4 linked regions of the Homo sapiens genome follow. The protein of the gene in region 2 interacts with the protein of the main gene of each other region in a pairwise test. Each region holds a gene or a part of one and is shown on either strand. Other genes may lie near its edges.

Region 1 (7,209 bases), on a different chromosome or scaffold from region 2:
CTCATCACTTCCCCTGCCCCTCCCAGTGGTCCCCTTTCCCTCACTTCCAGACACAGAGCCATCCCAGCACCTCCCCTTTTCCTCCCCCCCAACCCGTGGCCCCTTCTCTCACCTGCCAGTCCAGTTCTCCATCGCTCCCCCTCTACTGCCCCAGGGGGAGGCAGGAGCGGACTGGTCACAAAAACTACGCAGGCATCTGGGCGTGGAGGGTGCTCTCTGCAGGGACAGAAGCCTGGTGGTTACCTCTCCAGTGTCCAGAGAGCTTGGGGCTGGGAGGACAGCTCAGAGAATATGGAGGAGGGGGTGAAACTGGTCCATCCCTTTAGGATCCTCAGGGTGGGAGCAGGGAGGATCACTGCCTTGTCCATCTGTAGAGGCTACATGGTCAGGGGCTGACCTCAGCCCTCCAACTAAGGCTCAGTCCCCACCTCTGGGCCCTGTAGGGGCTTCTTAGCTCCTCCCCAAATCCTACCTAGGGACTGTTTCTAAGCCGGCTCAGGCACACACAAAAGGCTTTTTTTTTTTTTTTGAGATGGAGATCTCACTCTGTCATCCAGGCTGGAGGGCAGTGGTGCCACCAAAGCTCATTGCAGCCTCAAACTCACAGGCTCTCCTTCCTCAGCCTCCTGAGTAGGTGGGACTACATGCGTGCACCACCACACCCAGCTAATTTTGGTATTTTTTGGTGGAGATGGGATCCAGCTAAATTGCACAGGCTGGTCTTGAACTCCAGGCCTCAAGCGCTTCTCCTGCCTTGGCCTCCCAAAGTGCTGGGATGACAGGTGTGAGCCACCGCACCCAGCCAGAGGGCTCCTTCTAAAATGGTTGTCATCTGCTCCCACTCCTGCCCTCCCAGAGGTGCCTAGAAAGTAGAGGAGGAAGGCTCCACTGAGGATGCGCCAGACACTCTCTCTGAGGACCCACCAGAAGCCCCTTCCTTGGGTCTTCCAGACACAAGACCTTCCCCAGTCATCTCTCTGTCCTACTTGCCTCCCGGCTTTCTCTTCCCTTCTTAGATAAGCTCTTTAGGGAACATCCAGGCACATCTCATACACTTTTTGGCCAAGGGATAAGCTAAATGGGTTGACGGTTTAATCTCTAGAGAAGAAGCCGGCAATGTAACACCCACTCTGGGTGCCAGCATCTGGAGTTGGTTCAGTGAGGGCTTGTTTCCTGTGCGTCTCTACCAGCTGGGGAAGCGGGAAGGAGAGGTGCAGCCGGGGCTGCCTCATGCCCCAGCCACAGGCCTCTCATTCTGAAGAGCCGGGAAGTCCATCTGAAGTTCAGCTTTGAACACTGGAGAAGTGAGGCTTGGAAGCCACCCCAGCCACCAAGCCTGACTCTCTTTGCCCCCTTCTTCTCACTTTGAGTCCTTCCCACCCCTGCTCCTCATCCCACTCTTAGTTCTGCTTTCCAGGAAAAAAAAAATCTGTTTCTGTTGGATCTGAAAGGCACCCGGGAGAGGAATCCAGGGAGCCCTCGCATTGCTGAGGTGGGCCAGCTCTGGGGCAGAAAATGACCAAGAGAAGGGTAGGAATGTGCCTGGGGGCAGACACTCAGCCCCACTGCCCTCCCTGAGACCTAGGGTTCGGAATTTGAGGGAGGGGTCAGAGTGGCTGAGCCAGAGCGGGCGCCTCAGGGATTGGGGTTGGGGTGGGGGTTGCCGATGGCCACTCCTTCCCCTGGCTGGGCCGGCCACTAAGGTCAGCAACTCCACCCTGACTGAACGGGGGAGGCCAGGATCTCCAGAGAAGGGCCCATGTTCCACCCAAGTCTTCAGGCTCTGCCTGACTCTTGTTACTCCAGCTGAGGGAAGAAGAAATGGGGTGATAGTCACTGCCTGCCCCTTCTCTGATGCCGACCCCTCTTCATGCCCTCTCTGCCTCTGCTTCTCTCTGCCACCGAGATCTCTTCTCGCAGCCCCTCTCCACGGGTCTACCCAGTACACATAATCCCATCCCGAGCTGGGTTTGGCTTTGGCAGTTCCCTGGAGAAGTGAGGGGTGGGGGTGACGTGAGCTCCCGGGGCCCGGGCCAGGCCTGGCTCCCTCTCTGGAAAAGTCCCACCCCACCCTCCCCTGCGCAGCCCGGCAGGGGCCCATGCCCCCTCCTCTGCAGAAACACACGCACATTTATGCTTCTCACCCCTTTCCATGTCCCTCATTTGGTGTCGTTCCCGGCCCAGGACGAGGAAAGGAGAGGTCAGAGGTGGTCACTCTGGTGCCAGAGTAGACCCTGGTCTGGACAAACGCGGGCTCCTCCTGGCCACACCTCTCCACACTGCCCAGTGAAGACCAAGGAACAGAGACCTGCGCAGGGCTCACCCCTTCACCCCCAGGTCTCCCTGCTGGAGAGTGGTTGGACCCTGTGTTTCTGGGCCTAGCCATGGAGAATCCCTGTCCTGAGTCCGAATTCCCGGGCCCTCAGAGCCCTCCACTCCTGGGTCTGGCAGGCCACCCCAACAGGTGTCTTTCTTTTTTGTCAACCTCTTCTGCCATCGGGCTGAGCTGGATCAAGGGCACCCACCTGCGTCCCTCGCGGCGACCCTGTCCTCCAAGTTCAGGAGTGCAGTGGGGGACACACCGTCCGAGAGCACCCTCCTAGAGAGAGGGCAGGAGGCACCGGCCGCGCGGGGAGGTCATGGGTCTGTTTTCCAACTTTACTATGTGACTTAGGAGGAATTTTGGTTCACTCCCCGCCCGGGTGATGGGGCCAGAGTTCCACGGGATCAGACTCCCTCCCCAGGAATTCGACCCCAGGGGCTGGAAGATTGTCCGAGGCCACCGGAGCTGGGTCCGGGGTCGTGGCGGGGTCGCGACCGCACAGCGCAGGGAGAGGGGACGACGCGGGCGCGCGGGGCGGGCGGTCTAACGGGACCCGGGAGAGGGGCGGCCGGGGCCGGGGTCCCGGGGAGGTCTCTACCTGCTCTGCGAGCCCCCGGTGGCCCGTTAACCCTTCTGCGCCCAGGCGCTCTCTCCAGGCAACCTCGCTCCGCGGCGGCCACTGGGGCCCCTGAGCCGCGCTCCGGTCACGGCCGCCTCGGCCGCAACTCCGCCCTCGCGCCCGCCCCCGCCCAGCCCCGCCCGCCACGCGCCCCAGCCCGCGCCCCTCGGCGGCCCCGGGGTGGGGCCGGTCTGCCTCGCAGCCCCACTCGCCAGGACCACCCACCCCGGGCTGCGCGCCGGGCGCCCCCCGACGGCTGCGTGAGCTGAAGCCCGGGCTGGCCCAGCCGGGGTCGGAGGCTGCAGTCGCTCCCGGGCGCTGTCCTCGTGCCCGGCCGAGACTAGGGACTTAAGCAGCCCGGGCTGGCCCAGCCGGGGTCAGAGGCTGCAGTCGCTCCCGGGCGCTGTCCTCGTGCCCGGCTGAGACTAGGGACTTAAGCAACCCGGGCCTCCGAGCCGCTCGGGTGAGCGGTGCGAACACGGCGCGGCGCGGCGCGGCACAGGCGGGGCAGCCTCCAGGGGCGCCTGGAGCGAGGCGGCCTGGGAGAGCCGCTGGTCCGGGAGGGAAGCGCCCTGGACGGAGGTACCCGCGGCCCCCGATCCGCGTGGGTCCAGGCTCTCCCCTCCACGCAGCCTCCCCTGCAAACTCAGTCACTCCTGCCTCTCCCGTGTTGGGCAGTGGTGGTTCAGATTGCTGGGACTTCTATGAGCTTCGGTTTTTTTCCTCAGTAAGGTTTTACACTCGGGACTCAGCGAAAGGACAGCGTGCTGACTTCTGAGTCAGACTGATCTGGATTTGAACCTCAGCTCCAGCTCTTGCCAGCTATGTGGTCTTCGACGAATACTTCCACCCCTGTGTGGTGCAGTTTGCTCATCTGCAAAATGGGACTAATCTAATATATATGATGGGCTTGGATATGTCTCTTTATGCATTTATACATGGAAGAATGCACCCCAAACTCAGTAGTATTGGTGACATCTGGGGAGGGATGCAGGGTTGGGGGAGGACTGAAAAAGGCTTTTGCTTTTTACTCTGCGTTATGTTTATTATTATTATATTATTATTTATTTATTTTTTTTGAGACGGAGTCTCACTCTGTCGTCCAGGCTGGAGTGCAGTGGTGCTATCTTGGCTCACTGCAAGCTCCGCCTCCCAGGTTCACGCCATTCTCCTGCCCTAGCCTCCTGAGTAGCTGGGACTACAGGCGTCTGCCACCACGCCCGGCTAATTTTTTGTATTTTTAGTAGAGACGGGGTTTCATCGTGTTAGCCAGAATGGTCTCGATCTCCTGACCTCGTGATCCGTCCGCCTCGGCCTCCCAAAGTGCTGGGATTACAGGCGTGAGCCACCGCACCCAGCTATGTAATGTTATTTTTGTGAATTTTTTTAACCACAAGAGCAATCCATCTATTAGTTTTATCTTTTTTTTTTCTTTTTTTTTTTGAGATGGAGTTTCACTCTTGTTGCCCAGGCTGGAGTGCAGTGGCGCGATCTCGGCTCACTGCAACCTCCGCCTCCCAGGTTCAAGTGATTCTCCTGCCTCAGCCTCCCAAGTAGCTGGGATTAGAGGCATGCGCCACCATGCCTGGCTTATTTTATATTTTTTAGTAGAGACGGGATTTCTCCATGTTAGTCAGGCTAGCCTCCAACTCCCGACCTCAAGTGATCCTCCTGCCTCGGCCTCCCAAAGTTCTGGGATTATAGGCGTGAGCCACCGCGCCTGGCTATTATTTATTATAAATAATATATGTAAGCTGGGCATGGTGGTGAAAGCCTGTAGTCCTAGCTACTCAGGAGGCTGAGCGGGGAGGATTGCTTGAGCCCAGGAGTTTGAGGCTGCAGTGAACTATGATCGTGCCACTGCACTCCAGCCCCTGCGACAGAGAGAGACCTCGTCTCAAAAAATAAACACATAAATAAATAAAATATGTAAAATGGCTGGCATAGAGTAGACAATAAATGGTCACTGCTATTTTTATATTTTACTTTTTTTTTTTTGAGAAGGAGTCTTGTCCTGTCACCCAGGCTGGAGTGCAATGGCGCCATCTCAGCTCACTGCAACCTCTGCCTCCTGGGTTCAAGCCATTCTCCTGCCTCAGCCTCCTGAGTAGGTGGGATTGCAGGCACGAGCCACCACGCCTGGCTAATTTTTTGTATCTTTAGTAGAGATGGGGTTTCACCATGTTGGCCAGGCTGGTCTCGAACTCCTGACCTCATGATCCGTCCGCCTCAGCCTCCCAAAGTGCTGGGATTACAGACATGAGCCACTGCTCCCGGCCTATATTTTTACTTTCTATTTACTGACGCGTTGTATTTTGTTGGGTCTACTCAGTGTTTTAAAGGTTTTTGTTTGTTTGTTTTTTGTTTTTAAGACAGGCTAGTTTCAAACTCCTGGGCTCAAGAAATCCTCCTTCCTTGGGCTCCTAAAATGCCGGGATTACATGTGTGAGCCACTGGGCCCAACCTAAAGGCACATTTTTTTTTTTTAAATAACTTGTCAATACGTATTTTAAAACCTGGATATTTTAAAATTTCTCTTGAAAAACTAAAACACAAAAATAGAAGCTCTAACAACATTGTCCTGCATCCTCACAAAATATCAGAGGTCTTTGGTTCCCCACCTGTCATTTTTTGGGCGCCTTTTGCACTTGGTGTTGAAGAAGCAGCAAGAAGTCTCTGGCCTCAAGGAGTTGGGTCTGATCAGGCACAGACACGGCAGGTAATGGGGTCATGCGAAGGTTAATACTGGGCTCAGCTGAAGGAGATGTTATCTCTAAGAAGATGATGGATATGAAAACGTAAAATGCTTTCAAAATGTAGGAATTGGGCCGGGCGCGGTGGCTCATGCCTGCAATCCCAGCACCTTCGGAGGCCAAGGCGGGCGGATCATCTGAGGTCAGGAGTTCAAGACCAGCCTAGCCAACATGGCGAAACCCCATCTCTACTAAAAATACAAAAATTAGCCGGGTGTGGTGGTGGGCGTTTGTAATCCCAGCTACTCAGGAGGCTGAGACAGGGAGAATTGCTTGAACCTGGCAGGCGGAGGTTGCATTGAGCTGAGATCATGCCACTGCACTCCAGCTTAGGTGACAGAGCGAGACTCTGCCTCAAAAAAATAAAGAAAAGAAAAGAAAATGTAAGAATTGTGTCCCGAGCTGGGTACAATTGCAGGCACCTGTAGTCCTGGCGATTCGGGAGGCTGAAGTGGGAGGATCACTTGAGGCCAAGAGTTCAAGTCCAGCCTGGGCAACATGGCAAGACCCCATATCTAAAAAAAAAAAAAGAAGAAGAAAAAAGAAAGGAGAAAAAGAATTGTATCATTATTTGAAATTTAACATGCATATTTTTTCTCGGTAAATCACTAAGTTCTTTCAGAATAAAGGACTATTTATGCTACTTTGTATCATCTATACTTTTTCCTATTTTATATTAGAGTTTTGTTTTTTTGATAAGTCACTGAAACAACAACAACAACTTGAAAACACGAAGTACACCACGAAACATGAAGCGGGTCAGATTGACCTGCGCCTCTGGGAGGTGCCTCTCCTCATCCTCCATCTGAGTCCTGAGTTCCTACATGGGTTGAGAAGATAAAAGGTTAATGCCCCTCCCAGAGGGGTGGTTTATCTAGGGACTCCTGGTGACAACCTGGAGACATATTTATAGTGCTAGCTTTGAAGGGGAAGCCCCTTTCCCCAGACCTCAGAGTATGATATAGATGATGAGAAGCCCAGCCTTCCGGGCAGAGGAAGATATTTTGGGCCAGGGACCCTTCAGTCCTGGCCCAGTCACACCTCATCAGCATTCACTTATCTACAGGGAGGGAAGCTGCAGGACAGGAGTGTGGGAGGGGAGCCTGGGAGGAGAGAAAAGGTCTGCCTTTGACATTTGTAACTGCTGAGAACTGAAGGTCAGATACAGTCCTTTCCACTAAGAAATGGCTGCTCACCGAAGAGCTCATGAGATTTGCTACTGCTGTCACCTCTCATGGCTTGGTGGTCTGAAAATATTGTAGAAAGAAAAGAGTTTCCTATGCCTCAGCAACTTGTGAAATACCAGATTAAGTTTGTGGACACTGTCTCCAGGATAAAAAGTTTTTAGGCTGGGTGCGGTGTCTCACACCTGTAATCCCAGCACTTTGGGAGGCTGAGGTGGGTAGATTGCTTAAGCCCAGGAATTTGACACCAGCCTGGGCAACATAGCAAGACCCTGTCTCAAAAATAAACAAATACATAAATAATTTTTAAAAAGAAGTTTTTAAGGCCGG
Region 2 (7,023 bases):
AGCAGTCTACCCACCCACCCTCCCAGGGAAACCCCTCGGGGCTGGGGCAGAACCCAGGATGAATGAGTGCAGGCGAGCACCCAGGTGTGTTAGTGTGTCCTTGGTGCTGGGTCCACTGCATTTGAGAGGCCCATGAGTAACTACGTACATGGCTTGTGTGAGCCTATGGGTGTGGGAGTGGTGCCATCTGTGAGCTGCAGGGTGTTGGCATGGCTGAGTGTGTGTTTCCCTAGGTGTTAGTGTAACTCTGTGAGACGCCATGTGTTAGAATGACTGTCTGAGATTGTGGGTGTTGGGAGATGCTCTGCGTACATCTCTGACTGTTGCTACAACTGTGAGTTCAGATCTCCAGGTTGGTATGACTGAGTCTCCGGGTGTTGGCACATCCGGATGCATGTGTCTGCATGAGTCTCTGGAGAGTGGTGTGATGCTTGAGGGGACCCTGGGTGCAGAAATGACTGAGGCCGGGCGCAGTGGCTCACACCTATAATCCCAGCACTTTGGGAGGCCGAGGCAGGCGGATTGCTTGAAGTCAGGAGTTAAATACCACCCTGGCCAACATGGCAAAATCCCGTCTCTACTAAAAATGCAAAAATTAGCCAGGCGTGGTGGCTCATGCCTATAATCCCAGCTACTTGGGAGGCTGGAGCAGGAAAATCACTTGAACCTGGGAGGTGGAGGTTGCAGTGAGCCGAGATCGTGCTATTGCACTTCAGCCTGGGTGACAAGAGCAAAACTCTGTCCTTCCCCACCAAAAAAAATTCAAGCTGCTGAGTGAGGTGGCTCACACCTGTAATCCCAGCATTCTGGGAGGCACATCACCTGAGGTGGGTGGATCAGTTGAGGTCAGGAGTTTGAGACCAGCCTGGCCAACATGGTGAAATCCCATCTCTACTAAAAATACAAACATTAGCCGGGCGTGGTGGTGCAAGCCTATAGTCCCAGCTACTCAGGAGGCTGAGGCAGGAGAATCACTTGAACCTGGGAGGTGGAGGTTGCAGTGAGCTGAGATTGCACCACTGCTCTCCAGCCTGGGTGATGGAGCAAGACTCCATCTCAAAAAGAAAAAAAATGTTAAAACCAATAAAAATGTTTTAAATTAAAAAACAGGCTGGGTGCAATGGCTCACGCCTGTATTCCCAGCATTTGGGAGGCCAAAGCAGGAGGATCACTTGAAGCCAGGAGTTCTAGCCAAGCCCTGGCGGCATACCAAGACCCTTTCTCTACAAAAAAAAAAAAAAAAAAAAAAATTAAATTAGCCAGGCATGGTGGTGTATGCCTTTAGTCCCAGCTACTTGGAAGGCTGAGGTGGGAGGATTGTTTGAGCCCAGGAAATTGAGGCTATAGTGAGCTTTGATCACACCACTGTACTCCAGCCTGGGTGACAAGGCAAGATCCTGTCTCCAAACAAAAACAAAAATAAACAGTCTTTGGTTATCATCCATGTAACTGTGGGAGTTTCTGGGTATTCGTGTGACAGTGTGCACATCCTTGAGTGTTGCCTGGGGTGTTGGCGTGGCTGTGTCTGGAGGTATTCGTGTGACAGTATGTGCACCCTTGGGTGTTGCCTGGGTGTTGGTGTGGCTGTTTTTTTAGGTGTTTGTGTGACTGCATGCACATCCTTGAATGTTGCCTGGGTGTTGGCGTGGCTGTGTCTAGAGGTATTCATGTGACAGCATGCACGGTCTTGAGTGTTACCGGGTGCTGGTGTGGCTGTATGCACCTCTCTGGGTGTTGGTGGCTACGGGGGTCATGGCATGCATCTCCCTGGGGGTCCGTGGAGATGGGTTAACCTGGCTCTGGAGACCATGGGTGAGCCAGTGAGCAGTGGAATCCCTGGAGTCCCGCATCCCCAGAGGCATCCCAGCTCACCGTGGGTGGCCGCCGGGTCGGGAAGCACCACGTGGGCGTGCAGCTCCTGCAGCTGCTGGTGCAGCAGGTCGAGGCGGCGCGAGGAGCCCCGCAGCAGCAGCTCTACGGGGCCCAGGCTGCGGCCCAGGTCAGTGGTGGCCCGCCGCAGGTTCTCAGCACCCTCCTTCAGCTTCAGCTCCTTGCGGATTTCCCGCCGCAGCCGCTCCCGCTCCAGCTCCAGCTGCTGCTGTACCCCGGGGGCCGCCAGGTCTGCCCCGGCCAGGCCCAGCTGCTCTAGCAGGGACCAGCTGCGAGGCTCACTCTGCGGAGGACAGAACAGGGTCAGTGGAGCTAGGAGAACTCCAGGTGCAGACCACATGCAGCCAGCCTGGCCCAGCCTCTGCCCTGGACTGGGGCTCCCAAGACAGGGCCTGCTCTACCTCCTCTGACTCCCAAAACTGGAAGGTGACGAGGCCTTGCCACTGCTTCCTGACCTCCCCAAACTGGGAGGTCTCAAGAGCAGGGCCTTGTCACCCCCACCACCACAGCGTCCCCCACATTAAGGGGGTCTCAAGAATAAGATCTGTCTCCCTTCTGCTGCCTCCCCCAAACTAGAGGGTCCCAAGGGAAGATTCCTTCTTTTCTCTGCTGCTCCCCGAAACTAAGAGGGCCCAAGGGCAGGCCCTGTCTTCTCTCTGCTGTACCCCTAAAACTACAGGGTCCTGAGGACAGGCCCCATCTTCCCTCACTTGTACCCTGAAACTATGGCATCCCGAGGGCAGGCCTCATCTTTCCTTGGCTACACCCCCAAAACTAGGGTATCCCAAGGGCAGGCCAAGTCTTCTCTCTGCTGTACCCCCAAACTATGGGGTCTTGAAGACCCTCATCTGCTCTTCTCCTATGTTCAACAACTGGGACCCTAAAGAACAGAGCCCGGTCTCCTTCCTTCTGTCTCTCCCCAATCTGGGAGCCCCGAAGGGCACTGGATACTCTCATCCTCCAGAGAGAGAACTCTGAGGCCAGTGCCCCATCTCCTCTCCTTGTTCCCAAACTGAGAAGTACCCGGGGAAGGACTACTGGCCTGTGCCACTTGGGGCCCCCTTCTGCCTGCCCCCACAGGGACCCTGGACCCCACCTCCAGCTCCTGCTCCGAGGGGTTATTGGCCTCCGCCATCCTGGGTCCGGGCTGAGGGCCCCGCCCTCTTCCTGAACCTCAGCCCCACCAGGGCCTCTCGGCTGCCACTTCCTCTTTCCTGTCAACTCCCAGCACCCCTCGCGCGGGGCCAACTCCAGGGCATCTAAGGGACCTCCTGTTCCTCTAGATGAAACCCAGGGACAGTCCTTGCTCCCTGTCCCTAGAGAATGTCCAAGGTGCAGGCAGTTTGTACATTCACACACTCATGGTGTATCCATGAGGGGACGCAGGCTCCGAGGGCTGACTTGAGTGTGCACTAACTTTCAAATACATATGTGGATATGCACAGAACACAGGCTCACAAATGTTTGCACGCTTTCTTTTTCTTTCCTTTTTTTTTTTTTTTTTTTTTTTTTGAGACAGAGTCTCCCTTTGTGTTGCCCAGGCTGGAGTGCACTGGTGTGATCTTGGCTCACTGCAACCTCCGCCTCCCAGGTTCAAGCAATTCTCTTGCCTCAGCCTCCCAAGTAGCTGGGATTACAGGCATGTGCCGCCACGCCCAGCTAATTTTTGTATTTTTAGTAGAGACAGGGTTTCACCATGTTGGCCAGGCTGGTCTCGAACTCCTGACCTCAGGTGATCCGCCCCCCTCAGCCTCCCAAAGTGCTGGGATTACTGGACGTGAGCTACCGCGCCTGGCCTGTGTTTGCACAGTTATGGCTGCAGGTGTGTGCCTGCAACACAGGCTCACATGTGTGCACACTCCCATGCCTGTGTGTGTGGATGAAACAAAGATCCACACACAGGTGCACACTTCTACACCTGCAGGTGTGTGCCTGGAAAATGGGCTCACAGTGTACCCATTCCCATGCCTACCACATATGCACTTATTTGCAAACACATACAAGTGCTTATGAGCTTCCCTCTAGAACCCATACAAGACACACTCCCACCTGCCCGAGAGGGCATGGCCCACATGCTCATGCGTGTGCACATGCTCACACACATATGCACGCTCCCCGAGGCCCCTGCAGCACATCCATGCTCCCACAGACCTCCAGCCCTGCGACTACCTGCATATGTCCCTCCAGACTCTCCCAGCCACCCCTTGTCCCCGGCTTCCCCTTCAGGGTCAGAACAGCCACTTCTTCAGAGGTGAGGCCCCTTTCCTGCAGACGGGCCCTCCCAACTTCCTGCTTCCTCTCAGTCCAGTCGCCAACTGTTATTGACCATAGCTGAGAGGCCCGGGGTCCCAGCCAGCCCAGTGGCACCTCCCTCAGGCCAACACAATTAGGGGACAGCACTGGGGGACTGGGATAAGAATTTCCAAAACCAGGCCGGGCACGGTGCCTCACGCCTATAATCCCAGCATTTTGGGAGGCCGAGGTGGGTGGATCACCTGAGGTCGGGAGGTCGAGACCAGCCTGACCAACATGGAGAAACCCCGTCTCTACTGAAAAAAAAAAAAAAATACAAAATTAGTCGGGTTTGGTGGTGCATGCCTATAATCCCAGCTACTTGGGAGGCTGAAGCAGAATCACTTGAACCCAGGAGGCAGAGGTCGAGGTGAGCCAAGATCGTGCCATTGCACGCCAGAGCGAAACTCCGTCTCAAAAAAAAAAAGAATTTCCAATTTCCAAAATCACGCCGGGCGTGGTGGCTCACATCTGTAATCCCAGCACTTTGGGAGGATGAGCGAGGCAGATCACGTGAGGTCAGGAGTTCAAGACCAGCCTGGCCAACATGATGAAACCCCGTCTCTACTAAAAATATGAAAATTAGCCAGGCATGGTGGCACGTGCTTGTAATCCCAGCTGCTTGGGAGGCTAAGCATGAGAATCGCTTGAACCCAGGAGGTGGAGATTGCAGTGAGTCGAGATCACACCACTGCACTCCAGCCTGGGCGACAGAGTGAGACTCTATCTCAAAAAAAAAAAAAAAAAAAAAGAATGCCCCAAATCAGCAGCCTACAAAACCACTTGCTAAGCACACAGTAACATTCAAGAACAACTTATGATGGCATTACTTCCTGATAAGCTCATCATAAGTTGCAAATATCATAAGTCAAAAATGCATTTAATATATCTTACCTACCAAACATCATAGCTCACCCTGGCCTACCTTAAATGTGCTCAGAACACTTACCCAAGCCTATAGTTGGGCAAAAACGTCTAACACAAAGCTATTTTACAGTAAAGTTGAATATCTCATGTAACTTTTTTTCTTTTTTTTGAGACAGGGTCTTACTCTGTTGCCCAGGCTGGAGTGCAGTGGTGTGATCATGGCTCCCTGCAGTGTCTACCTCCTGGGCTCAAACAGTCCTCCCAGCTCAGCCTCCCGAGCAGCTGGGACTACAGGCATACGCCACCACACCTGGCTAATTTTTGTATTTTTCATAGACATGGGGTCTCACTATGTTGCCCAGGCTGATCTCGAACTCTTGGCCTCAAGTAATCCTCCTGCCTCGGCCTCCAAAAGTGCTGGGATTACAGGTGTGAGTCACTGCCCCGTGGCCAGGGCCTTGATTTAAAACAAGAGCACCCAGATTCCAAATGCTGGCTAGGAAATGGCCCCCTGGGGTTATCTCCTTCAGCTGGGAGCATCCATTTCACAGACAAGGAATGTTATCCTTGGCTCGTGACTGATCTCAAGCGCAGCTGCCCCCAGGGAGGAATGCCACAGACCAAGTGTATCACTCCCACCATCTTCCCAACCCTCACTACAAATCTTGAGCAGCTGCCAAGAACTCCCCACTTCACAGGTGAGGAAACTGAGGCTCAAGGAAGTCACAGTAGTATGTTTTGTTCGTTGGTTTGAGACAGAGTCTTGCTCTTTCGCCTAGGCTGGAGTGCAGTGGTGCAATCTCGGCTCACTGCAATCTCCACCTTCCGGGTTCAAGCAATTCCCCTGCCTCAGCCTCCTGAGTAGTTGGGACTACAGGCACGTGCCACTGCGCCTAGCTAATGTTTTGTATTTTTAGTAGAGACGGGGTTTCACATGTTGGCCAGGCTGGTCTCAAACTCCTGACTTCAAGCAATCAGCCAGCCTCGGCCTCCCAAAGTTCTGGGATTACAAGTGTGAGGCACTGTGCCTGGCCAGTAACAGTTTTCCATTGAGGGGAGATTTTCTCCCCATACCCGGGGACATGCGGCAACATCCGGAGACATTTTTGGTTGTCCTGACTGTGGGTAAGGAGGTGACTTCTATCAGGGTGAGGCCAGGGATGCCACTCAACGCCCTGCAGTGCACAGGACAGCCTCTACTGCAAAGAATGACCCAGCCCTGAATGTCAGTAGTGCTAAGGCTGAGAAGCCTACGGTTAAGGGTCATAGATTTGGCCAGGTGTGGTGGTTCACGTCTGTAATCCCAGCGCTTTGGGAGGCTGAGGCAGGAGCAGTGCTTGAGGTCAGGAATTGGAGATAAGTCTGGGCAACACAGCAAGACCTACAAAAATCTCTACAAAAAATAAAAAAGTATTGGCCAGGTGTGGTGGCTCTCTCTGCCTGTGATCCTAGCACTTTAGGAGGCCAAGGCCGGAGGACTGCTTGAGCTCAGGAGTTCGAGACCAGCCTGGGCAATAACGGTGAGACCCCATCTCTACAAAAAATGTAAGAATTAGCCAGGTGTGATGGCATGTGCCTGCAGTCTCAACTACTTGGGAGCCTGAGGTGGGAAGCTGGCTTGAGCCCAGGAGGCAGAGGTTCCAGTGAGCCGAGATCACACCATCACACTCCAGCCTGGCCAACAGAGCCAGGCTTTGTCTCAAAAAAGAAAAAAAGAGGCCAGGCGCGGTGGCTCATGCCTATAATCCCACCACTTTGGGAGGCCGAGGCAGGCAGATCACGAGGTCAGGAGATCTAGACCATCCTGGCTAACAAGGTGAAACCCTGTCTCTACTAAAAACACAAAAAAATCAGCCGGGCATGGTGGCGGGCGTTTGTAGTCCCAGCTACTTGGGAGGCTGAGGCAGGAGAATGGCGTGAACCCAGGAGGCAGAATTTGCAGTAAGCCGAGATCAAGCCACTGCACTCTAGCCT
Region 3 (6,852 bases), on a different chromosome or scaffold from region 2:
TGTAAGCAGAGATAAAAACATTAAATAAGAATCAAAAGGAAACAAGAACATGTAAGGAATATAAAGGCACTGGACAGAGAAATAGGATGAAGAGGTGAACAATCAGCAGTTATTTTTATTGCAATGGGAGACTTGTCCAGTATTGTAAAGCTAAAGGCAAGAATCTAACACAGGAAAAGAGAAAGTGGAAAACTGACAAATATTTGCTTCATGAGATCCTTTCCAAGGTCAGGATTAAGTCCTAAAAGAAGGAAGATGAGAAATAACAAATTAGGCCAAACCAAAAGGTTGTAAACTTGTCTGTGAAACTTCGTTTTAATTAGGTAACATGGCTACTGCAAAAAGTGAAGGTTATACTACTTCCCGTCTCCCACCCCATTCTTTCCTTAATAGATGTTATGAAATTGTCAACATTTAAGAAACTCCCAAAGGAATTTTTCTTAGACATCATACTATGAGAGTTGGACAGTTTTTGTATTTTTCAATTTAATAAACTCAATTTAATTTTACATTAAAATTTCTATACCTTAAGGTGAAAACAAAAACCATACAAGATAAGCAGTAACCAATGTTACTGAAGTAAACACTCATTCATTCAGCAAATATTTATTCAGCACCTTCTTCAATCTAGGCAATGGATACAGTAGTGAACAAAACAAAAATCTCTGCCTTTTTGGAGTACTATCCTTAGGTGAAGATGGATGAATAAGCAGGTACACAATAAACTTGTAGAAATTTTTTTTTTTTTTTTTTTGAGGTGGAATCTCACTCTGTCGACCAGGCTGGAGTACAATGGCAGTGATCACGGATCACTACAACATCACCTTCCCGGTCTCAAGTAATCTTCCCACCTCAGCCTCCAAAGTAGCTAGGACTACAGGCACATGCCACCACGCCTGGCTCAATGTTTTGTAGAAATGGGGGTTTGCCATGTTGCCCAGGCTGGTTGTGGACTCCCAAGCTCAAGTAATTTGCCCACTGGTTGTGAACTCCCAAGCTCAAGCAATTTGCCCACTTCAGCCTCATAAAGTGGTGGAATTACAGGCATGAGCCACTGTGCCTGGCAGGAATAAATTTTATGGAAAAATTCAAGCAAAGGTGAGGGACTGAAGAGCTCCAAAGGTGAAGTATTATTACTTTATATGGGGTGGTAAAGGACTCTTTGACACAGTTACCTAAAGGAGGTGAGTCATGAGGTTATCTGGGGGCACAATATTCCAAAAAACTGCATATGCACAGGCTCCAAAGGGGGAATATAGTGTGTCTGATGTGTTGTGGGACAACGTGGGATGTAATTAGGCAAGAGGAAGAGTCTATAGTGAGATCCTGTGGGGCCCTGTAAAGAGTTTTACTGAGTGAAATGGAAAAAACTTGAGAAATGTTTTGAGCAGAACCACATTGATTACTACCTGGAGGGTGTTGGCAAGGAGACTATTTAGGTGGGTATCACAATGTAACACAGTGATTTACATGGGAGTGGTAGTCTGGATTTATTTGGCAGGTAGAAATGGTAAAATTTGCTTATAGAGTGAGGTATAAGATAGAAGTCAAGGGTAATCCCAAGGTTTTTCCCCTGAGTAAGTGAAAGAGTGGAATTTGCCATTTACTAAAATGAGAAAGATTGCAGTTAATTAGAAAAGACAGAAAATATTATATATTTGGTTTGAGATGTTTATTAACTTATAAGTGCAGGTGTTTTTTCTTAAAATCTGTTTTCTTGGGAGAGGTCTTAGCCAGAGATTAACATTTGTGAATCATCATTATAGGTGATATTAAAGACATCAGAGTGAAGAGGTTTATGGACTAACCCAGCAATACCAATACAGTCCTGGATCATCAACAATGAATCACATATACAATGGTGATCTGGTAGCAGAGCTGAAAAATTCCTATTGTCTAACAACGTTGTAGTTGTCACAACATTCAAGCACAAGACATTACCTTTTCTATGTTTACATACACAAATACTTAGCATTGTGTTACAATTGCCTACAGTATTCAGTACAGTAACATGCTATGCAGGTTGGTAGCCTAGAAGCAACAAATGCATTTTCATCATTATGCAAACACCATTTAGTGTACTTACACAAACCTAGATGTATAGCCTACTATAGCTTAGGTGTACAGTCTACTATACAATTGTAGCCTAGGTGTATAGTAGCCCATACATCTACGTTTGTGTAAGTACACTAGAAGATATTTGCAAAATGCTGAAATTGGCTAACAAGGTATTTCTCAGAAGGTATCACCATCGATGCATGACTGTATTTAGTTATGGTAGTGAGGAACAGATACCAGCAAAGGATCTGGGAAAGGTGAAACCATGAACCAAGACAAGAACTAGGAAGAGTGGTTTCTCAGAACCCAAATAAAGCTTTTCAAAGATCGAGAAGCGATAAACCCGACCGACACTGCTTCATTCAAAAAGAATGAAACTGTGGATCAGCCATTGTATTTGGTTGCATGGCTATTGCTGGCTTTCATAGAAGCTGTTTTGATGGAGTGGTAGGATGGACAAAAGCGTGAGTACCATATTCAAGAGAGAATGCAAGGTTCTCTCCCAAGAACTCTCAACAAGTTCCGCTGAAGAAAGATTAGCTGAGGTGGAGGAGATTGGAGAGGGGAAGAGAAAACAAATTACTTAGGGAATTTTGGGGGAACTTAGTGGGCAGCATTACGGGCAGCGCTAAGGAACCATTTAAAGTAAGACAAGTCCACACAGCTGTGTGCTTTTCTACAGTCTTGTTCAACTGCTGCATAACAACAGAATGTTGGAAGCAGGAATTAGTTTTAAAGTAAGATGGTATTGACGAGACGACAATAAAATACCTCTACTACAGAGCACAGCAATGTTCGGCCTGGTGGCTCACAGAAGCTGAGGCTCTTGAACGTCTGGGCACAGCATGAAAGCATCAAGCTTGAGAGACTGCAGGCCTTAACAAACTAGAAGTGCTAGAACGATGGTTCTAAACCAGGTCTTTTCTCACACAGCAAGCACAGCAATAGAGATTTATTTTATCTTATTTTTTAGACAGAGTCTCGCTCTGTTGCTCAGGCTCGAGTGCAACGGCACGATCTCGGCTTACTGCAACCTCCGCCTTCCGGGTTCAAGGGATTCTCCTGCCTCAGCCTCCCAAGTAGCTGGGATTACAGGCATGTGCCACCACGTCCGGCTAACTTTTTGTATTTTTAGTACAGACGGGGTTTCACCATGTTGGCCAGCCTGGACGCTAACTTCTGACCTCAGGTGATCCACCCCACTCGGCCTCCCAAAGTGCCGGGATTACAGGTGTGAGCCACCGCGCCCAGCCCAGTAGAGATTCTTTTAAAGACTGCGGTAGGTCGATAAAGGAGACATTGTGGCCTAGGAGCTTCAAGGTCTACAGACTGAACCCAGTTAGGGTAGGGCCCCTTTCCAAATCCAGAAATGGTATCTATTAATAGAAGGGCTCCCTCCGGGTCCCAGGGGGATGGACTACGGTTTTTAGCGCCGGAACTTACAACCCGAAGTTCTGCTGCTTGTGACTGCCTGCCGGAGAGACTGGCATGGTGGCGACCAGCTGGGGAGTGGTGCACCACCCCTTTTTTTGGCCGCCTCTGAAGTCCCTGTACCCCCAAGCTCCTCCGTTAGCGGCTCGGGCCGAGGCTCCGGAATGTTTGCCGGGCGTCATGGCGACGGTGGAGCCCTGGCTCAACAAGCGGCCGCGCGGTTGGCTGGCGGCACGAGGCCGAGGAGGAGGGCGGAGGCGGAGGGGAGGGCAGAGGGTTGGTGGAGCTGGAGGAAGCTCCGGACGACGACTGGAAGAAGGAGGCGGGCGGCCCGGGCCTCAGGCCCCTCCCAGGCTCTGAGTCTCCCGGCTGCAGGCGGATGGATGGGGCTTCTTCAGGCGGTGGCGGCAGCAGCGAAGGTGGCGGCGGCAGCAGCGGCAGCGGCTGTAAGTGCAGCCTCCACAAGCCATCTCTCCCCTTCTATTCCAGTTTGGGATGAGGGGCTCCTGAGGTGTCCTCAGTCCCCTTTCTCTCCTTCCCCTCCCCCACGGCAGTGTACCGCCCGGAAGACCCTTAACTTCCGGGGAGGGGCTGCCGCAGAACGCGCCTGGCTTGCTCTCCGCCGGCTGCCAAAGGCGCATGCGCAGCTTCCTCCCTCTGGCCATCGACTGCCTCCCAGCGCCGCCTTTTTGCCTTCGCGGTGGTGGCGCCGCGCTGGGAATCCGCTGCGGAGTGAGTTCGCCTCGCCCCGTTCGCTTCGGTCCCTGATCCCAGTCGGGGTGGGGCTAAGCTGACCACCCTGCTGTGGCTCCGCCTCTTTCTCCTGTATTTCCCTCACTTGTGTCCCATCCCCGGGAGGCTCTCGCTTGCACTGCAGCCTTTATGGTGAGCAGCGCCCTGGGCCAACTTGCCCTTTTCGGATGGAGTCAGGGAGGGAGGAGAGACTCGAATAGGGTATTACTGTAAGGAAACGAGGTCCTCCTAGCGCGTGGGAGGATCCCTTGGGACAGATGCCCGCCGCTCTTTACTCTTGTTCTTTCAGCTTGTAGTGGCTAGGTCCCTGGCCTGGAGCCTATCTGTGGTCCCTGCATGCTGTGTAACCTTGAGCGAGTCACTATCCCTCTCTGGGCTTCAGTTTTCCCTATTTAAAGCTTCCTCCAACGCTAGAATTCTGCATTTCTGCAGAAGAACTTATGTAATTACAAGATTGACTTGGCTATTGAGGCCGCTTCACCAAGATGACCCGGAGTTGACTGAACCTTCTTCACTTATGGGTGGAATGAGGCGACCTATTTATTGGGTCGCTTTTATTCCTTTATCATTAGTTACAAATTGCATGACTTAAGGCTCATTAAATGTTTTTCTAAAATTGTCATGGGATCCTTGTCCTGATTCCCGACCATCTTTTTAAAAATGCGAAACAGGGTGGATGGTGAGCTTGTATCATCGTTTCTGTCTCCTTGCTACTGAGGCTCTCTTTCCTTTGATCCAGATGGTGTGGTCGCTCGATTCTCCCAGTGCCTGGCTGAGTTTCGGACGTGGTTAAGAACCAACTGGTTGAGGTTCAATGCAGACAAGACGGATGTGATGCTGGTAGGCAGGGGTACACTTGGAGATTAAGGGAGGGAAAATCCAAACTCCCTCAAGTAATATAAGATTATATTACTCTTCTTATATGTTCCAGTGTTTGAGAACTGATGGGCCAAAAATTTCCAGAATTTGGGTGAGATAAAAATAACATGTCATCAATGTAAAAACCATAATCATAGTTTGTAATATTCTGATAAAATGGGGCCACTGGATAAAACTGTAAAAATTATGAAAAGAAAATCCAAAACTGTTATTTGAAGAACCAAAAGCCTATATAAGTGTTTTAGAGTGGCATTAATAACAAAAAATGAAACTAACGAAAGATGATGCTGATTGTCACTATAGATGTGGGGCTTCCAAATGTAATAGGCTAAGTTTTTTAGATGTAGGTATTTTCAACCAAATTAGTAATTATCCATAAAATTTTACCACCACATCATAAAGACATGGTGTAGGCTGTTGCTTTTAAATAAAAATTTCAGGAAATAGTTTATAAACTAATCTCAAAAGAGACTCATGGACGCTGAAAATTGTTAGATATAGAATTTTTTAGTTTTGGATGTGTTGTATTAATCTATTTCAGTCAGCTAACCCCAGAGTCTAAATTGTTATAAGTACAGTATTTTCTTGGTGCATTTTGAGAGGTACCTTTTTGGATTGCATAACAGATAGGTTTATATAGTATATATATATATGTTACTTGTATTTGAATCAGGTGTTGGTACTGAATAAAAGGTTATATTTCTTAGGTATATGTAAATTGCCAAAGAAGTTTGTTCATTGGTTCGTTTAAGGTACTGGTTGAAGTAAGATTGTGCTCCTAAATGCTTTTGTTAAAAGCATAATAATAACTGAGGGGTTTGTGTGTGCGTGCGCCTTATAGCCTCTATAGAATTGTTCAATAACTTTTGAATGGAAGATTCAGTAAATTGCTTACAAATGATTTATCAATATAATAGCAGTTTTGAGTAGCTTAATGTCATAAAAATTAATGTTACTTTGCCTGAAAATAAGGAGGCTTTTAGGTGGGGAATAGGAGCTGAAGAGGCATTTATTCAGGCTTTGTATAGTGGTTTTTTGTTTTGGGACATTAATCACAAACCTCACATAAAATTGGAATTCAGCACACTTTTTTAGTTTAAAAATTTTATACACAATTCCAACAGAACTACTGTTTTGGATATCACATTAATAAATAACAAAGTGTAATAATTTTAAGCAGACACAATTAATGGTGCATTTTCTTATGCCTTTAGCTCTCTCATGTCCTATTTTCAACTCTTCTAGTATGAATAGGCTTTAAAAATAAATTTTTTTTTGTTAACCCAAGTATAAATATTAACTGTTTGCATTTGGATACAAAGAAGATATCTGTTGAATTAATCCAAAGTGCTGAAGAACTAAGGGTAATGGATGGAAACAACAAGGAGGTAGATTCTGGCATAATAAAAGAAAGAATGTTTTAAACATTTGAACTTTTTTTGAAAAGAGCAGCCTTTTTATGAGATATAGTGAGTCACTGGAGGGGTTTAAACATAGGCAGAAAGCCTGGTAGTAGAAGCATGATGAGAGATTACTATCTTGACAGGGTAGAGAATTGACTAAAAGATCTCTAAGGTCCCATCCAACACTAAAATTCTATAACTAGTGAATAGTTAATTTTTATATATTTAATACTGAAGAGGGTAAGTAAGCGTTTTGAGAAAGACTTTTCATTCCGTAAGGTGGCTCCTGAAAATTTTACAGTTAGGTGTATCACTAAAATAAAATAAT
Region 4 (7,478 bases), on a different chromosome or scaffold from region 2:
AACAGAGACCAGACTTATCCTCATGCTTTCAGCATCTTTTTTTTTTTTTTTTTTTTTTGAGACAGAGTTTTGTTCTTGTCCCCCAGGCTGGAGGGCGATGGCACGATCTCGGCTTACCGCAACCTCTGCCTCCCGGGTTCAAGCAAGTCTCCTGCCTCAGCCTCCCGAGTAGCTGGATTACAGGCATGAGCCACCGTGCCCCGCCTGCTTTCAGCATCAAAACACAAAACACATGAAGCAATGGCTTTTAGATATTGGACAACAGGCAGTTCGGGAGAGTGATCCTTGAGAAACAGGAAATAAAGTGAGCCCTATGAATGGACATTGCCTGGAACTTTCAGGCCTCGGCATAAGGAGGAAACTCTCTGATTTAAAAAACGGAACACAGGCCGGGCGCGGTGGCTCATGCCTGTAATCCCAGCACTTTGGGAGGCCGAGGCGGGCAGGTCATGAGGTCAGGAGATCGAGATCATCCTGGCTAACACAGTGAAACCCCGTCTCTACTAAAAATACAAAAAAATTAGCCGGGCGTGGTGGTGGGCGCCTGTAGTCCCAGCTGCTCGGGAGGCTGAGGCAGGAGAATGGCGTGAAGCCGCGAGGCAGAGCTTCCAGTGAGCGGAGATCGCGCCACTGCACTCCAGCCTGGGAGACAAAGCGAGACTCCATCTCAAAAAAACAAACAAAAAAAAGGAACACAGCATCAGTGAGCTGTGGAACAAGATCAAGTGGCTTAACACATATGGAATTGGAGTCCCAGATTTTTTTTTGAGGGGATCAGGAAGAGGACAGTGAAAACAAAACAAAAAATAGTAATAACAGAGGTTTTTGTAGTGAAGCTTTTGAAATGATGGAAAAATTAAGGGACTAGAAAACCAAGACCTTAGAAGGTGTCTGTCACGAGAGAGCAAGCACAGGGTACTATATAAGGCTTAGCCTGGGCCAGGCACAGTGGCTCATGCATATAATCCCAGCACTTGGGATGCTGAGGTGGGTGGATCACTTGAGTCCAGGAGTTCAAGACCAGCCTGGGCAACATGGTGAAACCGCATCTCTACAAAAACATACAAAAATTAGCTGGGCATGGTGGCACATACCTGTGGTCCCAGCTACTCAAGGGGCTAAGGCAGGAGAACTGCTTCAACCTGAAAGGTGGAGGGTGCAGTGAGCTGAGATCATGCCAACGCACTCCAGCCTGGGTACAGGGCAACAGAGTGAGACTCTGTCTTAAAAAAAAGGAAAAAAAAAAAAAGTCTGGGCGCAGTGGCTCACACCTGTAATCCCAGCACTTTGGGAGGCTGAGGCGGGTGGATCATGAGGTCAGGAGATCAAGACCATCCTGGCTAACACAGTGAAACCCTGTCTCTACTAAAAATACAAAAAACAAAAAACAAACAAAAAAAAAGCTGGGCGTAGTAGTGGGCGCCTGTAGTCCTAGCTACTTGGGAGGCTGAGGCAGGAGAATGGCATGAACCCGGGAGGCGGAGGTTGCAGTGAGCCGAGATCGTGCCACTGCACTCCAGCCTGGGCGACAGAGTGAGACTCTGTCTCAAAAAAAAAAAAAAAAAAAAAAAAAAGGTTTAGTTGGGGCAGGGTGGGACACTCACTACCCCTTGGGTTTCCACAGAGGGAAGGAAATTTTTACTTTCTCAGGTTAGGGGAGAAAGTCAACAGTTCTTGATAGGAAAAAAAAGGAAAATCTTTTCACCCTCTTTTGGCCTTAAAATGATCATTTCCTTATATTCTTTCCAAATAATCTTCAGTACCGTCTAGGTGGCATACATAAGTGCTTAAACTTTTCTTATTCTTTCTATAAGGGAAGTACTTTCCTACTTCCTATATTAATAATCTCCCCACCCCCGAAGTCTTCAACTCCAGCTGATAGTTTTAAACTTAGAACATTCTTTCCTATTTGTTTTTAATAATGCTAGATAATGTATTCAAAATAATCTTAGTATCTGAAGAGGAAATGAGATTATACATTATTCCCTCTAACATAACTTCTCAGTTTGTTATTTTGTGCATTTAAAAAATTACATTTCCGAGGATATGTGCTCCTTGTGTCCTCTAACCTCTTAATCTAAAATAACAGGGACACTTAATTTTTTTTGGTATCTAATTATACTTACAAAGTATATGATATCTGAAAATAAATGCGACAAAATATGAGACCATGTAATAACACGATGAAAAGACATTGGAAAAACATGGCATTTATATTAAATGTATTTTTATGACTAAATTTGTTCTACACAAAAGTTGTTTATCCCTGCCAATGATATCTTGTGGGGGGAAAAATGAGTACTCACCTGGCGAAAACAGGAATTGTTAGTCTCCTCAAACGAGAGCTTACTCTTGAAATACACAGCGTTCTACCATATCAAGGTCATCAGAGAATTGCTGTAAAAACCTAGTGTCTATGTCATCTGCAGGAAAAGGAGATAAAGTCACCATTATCATCCAGAAGCTCTTGAGTTATTTAAGAAGGGACATGGTAGGTATTAAGAAAAATTAAGAAGACTTTTTTCCCCCCCATTCTGGGCTCCAAAAAATTGGTAGAAGAATGCAGCGCTCATTCTTTTTCACTAAAAAGCTCATTTGTCACTTTAAGGTGAGGGGATTTGGAAAAGGACTGGCATGTGGAGAAGGAATATCGGTCAGGAATCTGGACTTTGTTGCTAGATCTGCCACTTCCTGATTCAGCCCTGATCGTGCAGAGCTGACCAAGGCCGTGGTCCCCAGGCTCCCCTGACTCCAGGCTGCCCACGCTCACCGGGACAGGCCGGCTCGCTCCCTGCAGGCTGCAGCGGGAGGGCTGGACCTGGAAGCCTCTCTTAAAACGGGCCCTGGCTGCAGCAGGAGCTGCGCCCGAAAGCAGCTCTGAGAGTAACCGGTTCACCGAACATGGGTCCAGAATGATGCCCAAGCCCTGGGAAAAGTGGCACAAAGCCACCGCCGCGAAGCAGCAGGTGTTTCAAGCTGAGGGAAGGCGGGGCTGCGAGAGACAGCCTTGCGCATGCGCGTTCCATCCAGGTGCGGCAGCCTCAGGCAGAGATTAAGAAATGAGTCGTGGAAAAGGGGGCTAGCGGCTGGTTACTAGGAGACGGGACGCTCGGCTCGGGCGTCTAGGCGCTGCGTGGGCGTGCGCCTGCGCGGCGCGGATGGGCCAGGAAGGGGTCCCTCCTAGGTGCCCTGTAAGGCAGGCAGGTAGACGTACGCGTCGCTCCGTGCGTAGGAGCGCGCGCACGGCTTGTAGACCCCGCGAGAAGGAAGGTCGAGCCAGGTACGCGTGCGCACCGGGCCTGGGGGCGAGCGGGACGGAAGCAAAGCTGGGGCGCCGGGGAGGTGGAAGACGAGCCCCACTCCGGTACAGAGCGTGAGGGCGGGGCCACGGCGGCACTGGCTGGCGCTAACCGCCCCCTCCTCCTTCCCGCGGGCTCCGTCCTTCCTCCGATCCGCCGGGGCGGGGCCAGGACGATTTGGGGGTGGGAAGGGAGGAGAAAGGGGCGGAGGATGGAGAGTGGGCGGTTCTTGTATCCCCCGCTGAGGCCGAGAGCTGACAGTCGCGGGGATGAGCTCTGGGCAGGACGGCGGGCCGAGGAGCCCGGGGAGGGACCCGGAGCTCCAGGTAGAAGCTGCGGAGGTGCGCGGGGTGGGGAGAGTGCTGCTACTGGACTGGAAGGTCTCTGAGAAGGCGGCTGCAAGCGGGCAGGAGTGGCGGGTGCGGGGCCGTGGCGGGCGGAGTTGGGCGCTAGCAGCGGGAGCGGCTGTGAGGGGCAGCGGCGGGCACAGCTGCCGGCCGGAAGCTCGGCAGCACGAGTTGCCCCTGTTTCTTGGGAGGTTAGGTTTGAGCCCAGTTCCTATGGTCACTGCTTCGCGTCCTCCCGCAGCTCTCCGCTTGGTTGTTGGGGAGACTGTTCAGTTTAGAAACGCTCTGGAAGCTCTGGTGGAGCCGAGGAATTTGGAAGTCACAGATTTGGGAGTTCAGCCTGACTCCCGATCGCTCATTTCTGAGCCTCTTTCTAGACTTGGGGTGGTGAAAGGCTGAGATTACATAGGCATTTGCATGAAAATCTCAGATAATTTTAGTAAAAATTATACACAGTAAAGGCAGGGAAAGCTGGCTTTTGTTGAAAAACTATTTGAGACTTAAATTGGATAACTAGGTGATCATGGACTTGATACCTAAAAACTCACAGAAATATGGTTTTTTTTCACTTTTTTTTTTTCGCAGCTTCGGGAAAGTTTGCATAGATTATAGTGTCCCAACGTTTTCCTTCTTCCATTCCAGGACCTTATATCCTAGGAGATTTCCTTGTTTAAAATTTTCTGTACTGGTGTTCAGCATTTCAAGTATACTTTGTTTACGTGTAAGGACATAAGTAGAATAACAATAGGTTTGTAAGTAGAAAAAAACAGGTTAGTTATAGAAGTAGGATGTCGCATTCGAATCTGCTTCCAGGATAAGACAGATTCTTGTTTGTATTTTAATTGATTAATGAGCCAAACTCTTCAGTCTTAATTAGTGGGAAATAACTAGGACGGTACATTAATTAAATATTAATTTTAAATCCTAAACTTTGGCATTATTTAATGGCAGCTTCCACAATATCTCGCGTACTGTTTACCTTCTGAAGAAAAATCACTGCCTGTAGCCCAGAATATAATCAGGTGTAGAGATTCTCTGGGAGATCTTTTCTGTCTTCTTTTTGAGTTGCTTAGACTAGTTTGTTTAGGACGATTTGGTTTTGAAGTCCTCCATACACAGAGGCAGTTAGAGGTATTACTATTTATCACCTTTTCAGATTACATATTTCTTTCCCTCCCCAGAGATAGCCACTCTCCTGACTTCTAAGATAGCCACTTCCTTGATTTTCCTTAATGTTTCACATCATTGTATGTGAACATGCACATTACAGTTTGGCTTGTTTTTGAACTTCGAATGGAATTGTACTAAGTATTCATTTACATCTTGCTTCTTTACTCAACATTTTTTTTAAGATTAATCTTTATTGTTGCTCGCAGTATTTAGTTTGCTGATTGTTTCCCAAAATATTTATCCACTTATTTTTATTATATAAAATACTCTCTCAGAATTATTCATAAATCTTGTATGGTTTTCCACATCCTTCTGTTAGTGAGGCAGTTCCTTTCTACTTCAATGTCTATAAGTCTACACTTTTGGAGACAATATTTTTAAAAAGAAAAACCCACCTCAACTGTAGTAAGCTTTTGTGGAACCAGATTTCAGAATTCCATTGAAGTACTCCAGTATTTTCCATTCTATCAAAAAATCAATAATTTGTTGAATACATATTATGTGCTTCATATTTTGCTCAACACCGATGATACTTTTTATTATATAATCTTAGCTCCTGTTTCACTGAAAAATTAAAATTCAACCAGACAGAAACTTCCTCAGATTTCCATGACACTTACCTTTTTTTTTTGAGACATGATCTCACTGTCGCTCAGGCTGGAGTGCAGTGGTGCGATCATGACTCATTGCAGCCTTGACCTCCCGGGCTCAAGTGATTCTCCTATCTCAGCCTCCCAAGTAGCTGGGACCACAGGTGGATGCCACTATGCCTGGCTAATTTATTTTTTAATTTTTGTAGATACAGGAACTCACTATGTTGTCCAGGCTGGTCTCAAATTCCTGGGCTCAAGTGATCCTCTGGCCTTGGCCTCCCAAAGTGTTGGGATTATTGGGATTACAAGTGTCTAAATCTTCACCTGTCCTTGCTTTTGTCTTTCTTGTGTCGGGGCAATACATCTTTATCTGGGTTTCCTCTTATTACCTCAGCTGTCTTTCTCCATCAATTAACATTAACTCATGCCTTAGGAATCTTCATTGTTTCTGTACTGTAGGGCTTCTTCACCTGGAGTCCAAGGACCTTATAGAGTCTTAAATCCCCTGAAATTGTTTGTAAAGGTGTATTTGCATTTTTCTGAGGAGAGGATGCAGGACTTTTAATTCTGAAAGAGGATCCTTATGTAAAGAGAATTAAGGAACAAGTTTTTCTCTTCCCATAATGACGTTTCCACAACCTTGGTTGTCTTCCACCTTTGTTGTACCTCTCTTCCTCTCACAATCATGCTTCCTAAAAGAAGTTTACATTTTCCATTTCTTTTTCTTTACTATTCATTCATTAGTCCCCTTCAGACTTGTTTTCACCCACCATTGAAACTGCTTTGTTCGAATCATTAAATTTTCTTATTTTGAAAATGTTTTATTGCGTTTCACCTTTGTGCTGGGCACTTTTAAGGCATTAGGGATAAAACAGAGACAAGACAAAAGCCTAGAGCTCTTGAATTTTATATTCTAGTATGGGGAGATAGTAAACAAGTCAGCAAATGATATAATTTCAAGTAGTGATAAGTGCAAATAGCTTATCACTTATTTGAGAGAGTGACTAGGAGAGAGGCTACTTTAGGTAAGAAGTCAGGGAAGACCCTCTGACATTTCAGCCAAAGAGCTGAGGGTGAGAAGATAGCCATGTGAAAGGCTGGGTAGAAAGTGTTCCTGAGAGAGGAAAAGCAAGAGCAGAGGACCTGAAGTCAAATGTTACTGGCAAATATCTTAGTCCATTCAGGCTGCTATAATGAAATAACATATAAGCAACAGAAATTTAATTCTTACAGTTCTGGAGACTGGGAATTCTAAGATCCAAGTTGCCAGCAGAATCAATGTCTGAGGTTTTTTGGTTCATAGATGGTACCTTCAGACTCTGTCCTCATATGTTAGAAGGGGCAAGGGAGCTCTCTGGGGCCTATTATATACAGGCAACTCATCATGGCTGTGCCTTTTTTTTTTTTTTTTTGACATGGAGTCTCACTCTGTTGCCCAGGCTGGAGTGCAGTGACACGATCTCGGCTCACTGCAATAAATCCCTTCTAATTTATTAGCAAATGTTGTTGGTTCAAATATATATCCTAAATCCATCCACTTCTCTATATTTTTGTTACCACCTCCCTGGTCCAAGTCACCATCATCTCCCACCTAAAATACTGCAACCATTCCCTGCTATCTTTCCGCTTCCACTGTTGCTCCCTACAACCTATTCTCCACACTGATATCATATCAATCACTTCAAAATAATGAGATCCTGTGGGAGGGGAGAAGGGAGAGGGAAAAAAAAATGAAAAAGAAAATTATAATAAGATGATCCTGGCTCAAAAATACACCAATGGCTTCCCACTGCAATTAAAAATAAAATCCAAACTTTGTAAGGCCTTACATGATTTGGCCCTTGTCTTCACTTACAAGATCTAGTACTCCCTTCTTTGTTCGCCCAATAGCTTTTTCTTTCTGTTCCTCTAATGTGTGGCTTCAGTCCGAATTTCTGTGTCCTCACAAAATTTTTAGGTTGAAATTCTAACCCCTAAGGTGATCACATTAAGAGGCAGAGTCTTGGCCGGGTGCAGTGGCTCACGCCTGTAATCCCAACAGTTTGGGAGGCTGAGGCGGGTGGATCATG

Evidence for each region.
Region 1: the proteins of PKN1 (region 2) and ADAMTSL4 interact in binary tests that used the Homo sapiens proteins (3 or more experiments, as listed by UniProt).
Region 3: the proteins of PKN1 (region 2) and MIER1 interact in binary tests that used the Homo sapiens proteins (3 or more experiments, as listed by UniProt).
Region 4: the proteins of PKN1 (region 2) and C2orf15 interact in binary tests that used the Homo sapiens proteins (3 or more experiments, as listed by UniProt).

The regions. Positions count from the first base shown.
Region 1 is NC_000001.11:150,545,212-150,552,420, reverse strand, and holds the start of ADAMTSL4 (ADAMTS-like protein 4 isoform 1 precursor), read right to left. Parts: upstream 3,014-7,209; 5' UTR 2,922-3,013; intron 2,600-2,921; 5' UTR 2,526-2,599; exon of another isoform or gene 2,145-2,525; intron 2,132-2,144; coding exon of another isoform or gene 1,361-2,131; exon of another isoform or gene 1,145-1,360; coding exon of another isoform or gene 1,130-1,144; exon of another isoform or gene 217-1,129; coding exon of another isoform or gene 133-216; coding exon 113-132; intron 1-112. Other genes in the region: uncharacterized protein LOC124904417, read right to left, coding at 1,361-2,131. UniProt on the Homo sapiens protein: Positive regulation of apoptosis. May facilitate FBN1 microfibril biogenesis.
Region 2 is NC_000019.10:14,436,293-14,443,315, reverse strand, and holds part of PKN1 (serine/threonine-protein kinase N1), read right to left. Parts: intron 3,040-7,023; exon of another isoform or gene 3,026-3,039; coding exon of another isoform or gene 2,987-3,025; intron 2,174-2,986; coding exon 1,873-2,173; intron 1-1,872. UniProt on the Homo sapiens protein: PKC-related serine/threonine-protein kinase involved in various processes such as regulation of the intermediate filaments of the actin cytoskeleton, cell migration, tumor cell invasion and transcription regulation.
Region 3 is NC_000001.11:66,921,161-66,928,012, forward strand, and holds the start of MIER1 (mesoderm induction early response protein 1), read left to right. Parts: upstream 1-3,829; 5' UTR 3,830-3,868; coding exon 3,869-3,935; intron 3,936-4,172; exon of another isoform or gene 4,173-4,374; intron 4,375-4,981; coding exon 4,982-5,082; intron 5,083-5,173; exon of another isoform or gene 5,174-5,212; intron 5,213-6,852. Other genes in the region: DNAI4 (dynein axonemal intermediate chain 4), read right to left, coding at 3,502-3,671. UniProt on the Homo sapiens protein: Transcriptional repressor regulating the expression of a number of genes including SP1 target genes. Probably functions through recruitment of HDAC1 a histone deacetylase involved in chromatin silencing.
Region 4 is NC_000002.12:99,137,230-99,144,707, reverse strand, and holds the start of C2orf15 (uncharacterized protein C2orf15), read right to left. Parts: upstream 3,002-7,478; 5' UTR 2,771-3,001; intron 2,424-2,770; 5' UTR 2,307-2,423; intron 1-2,306. Other genes in the region: TSGA10 (testis-specific gene 10 protein), read left to right, coding at 3,569-3,640.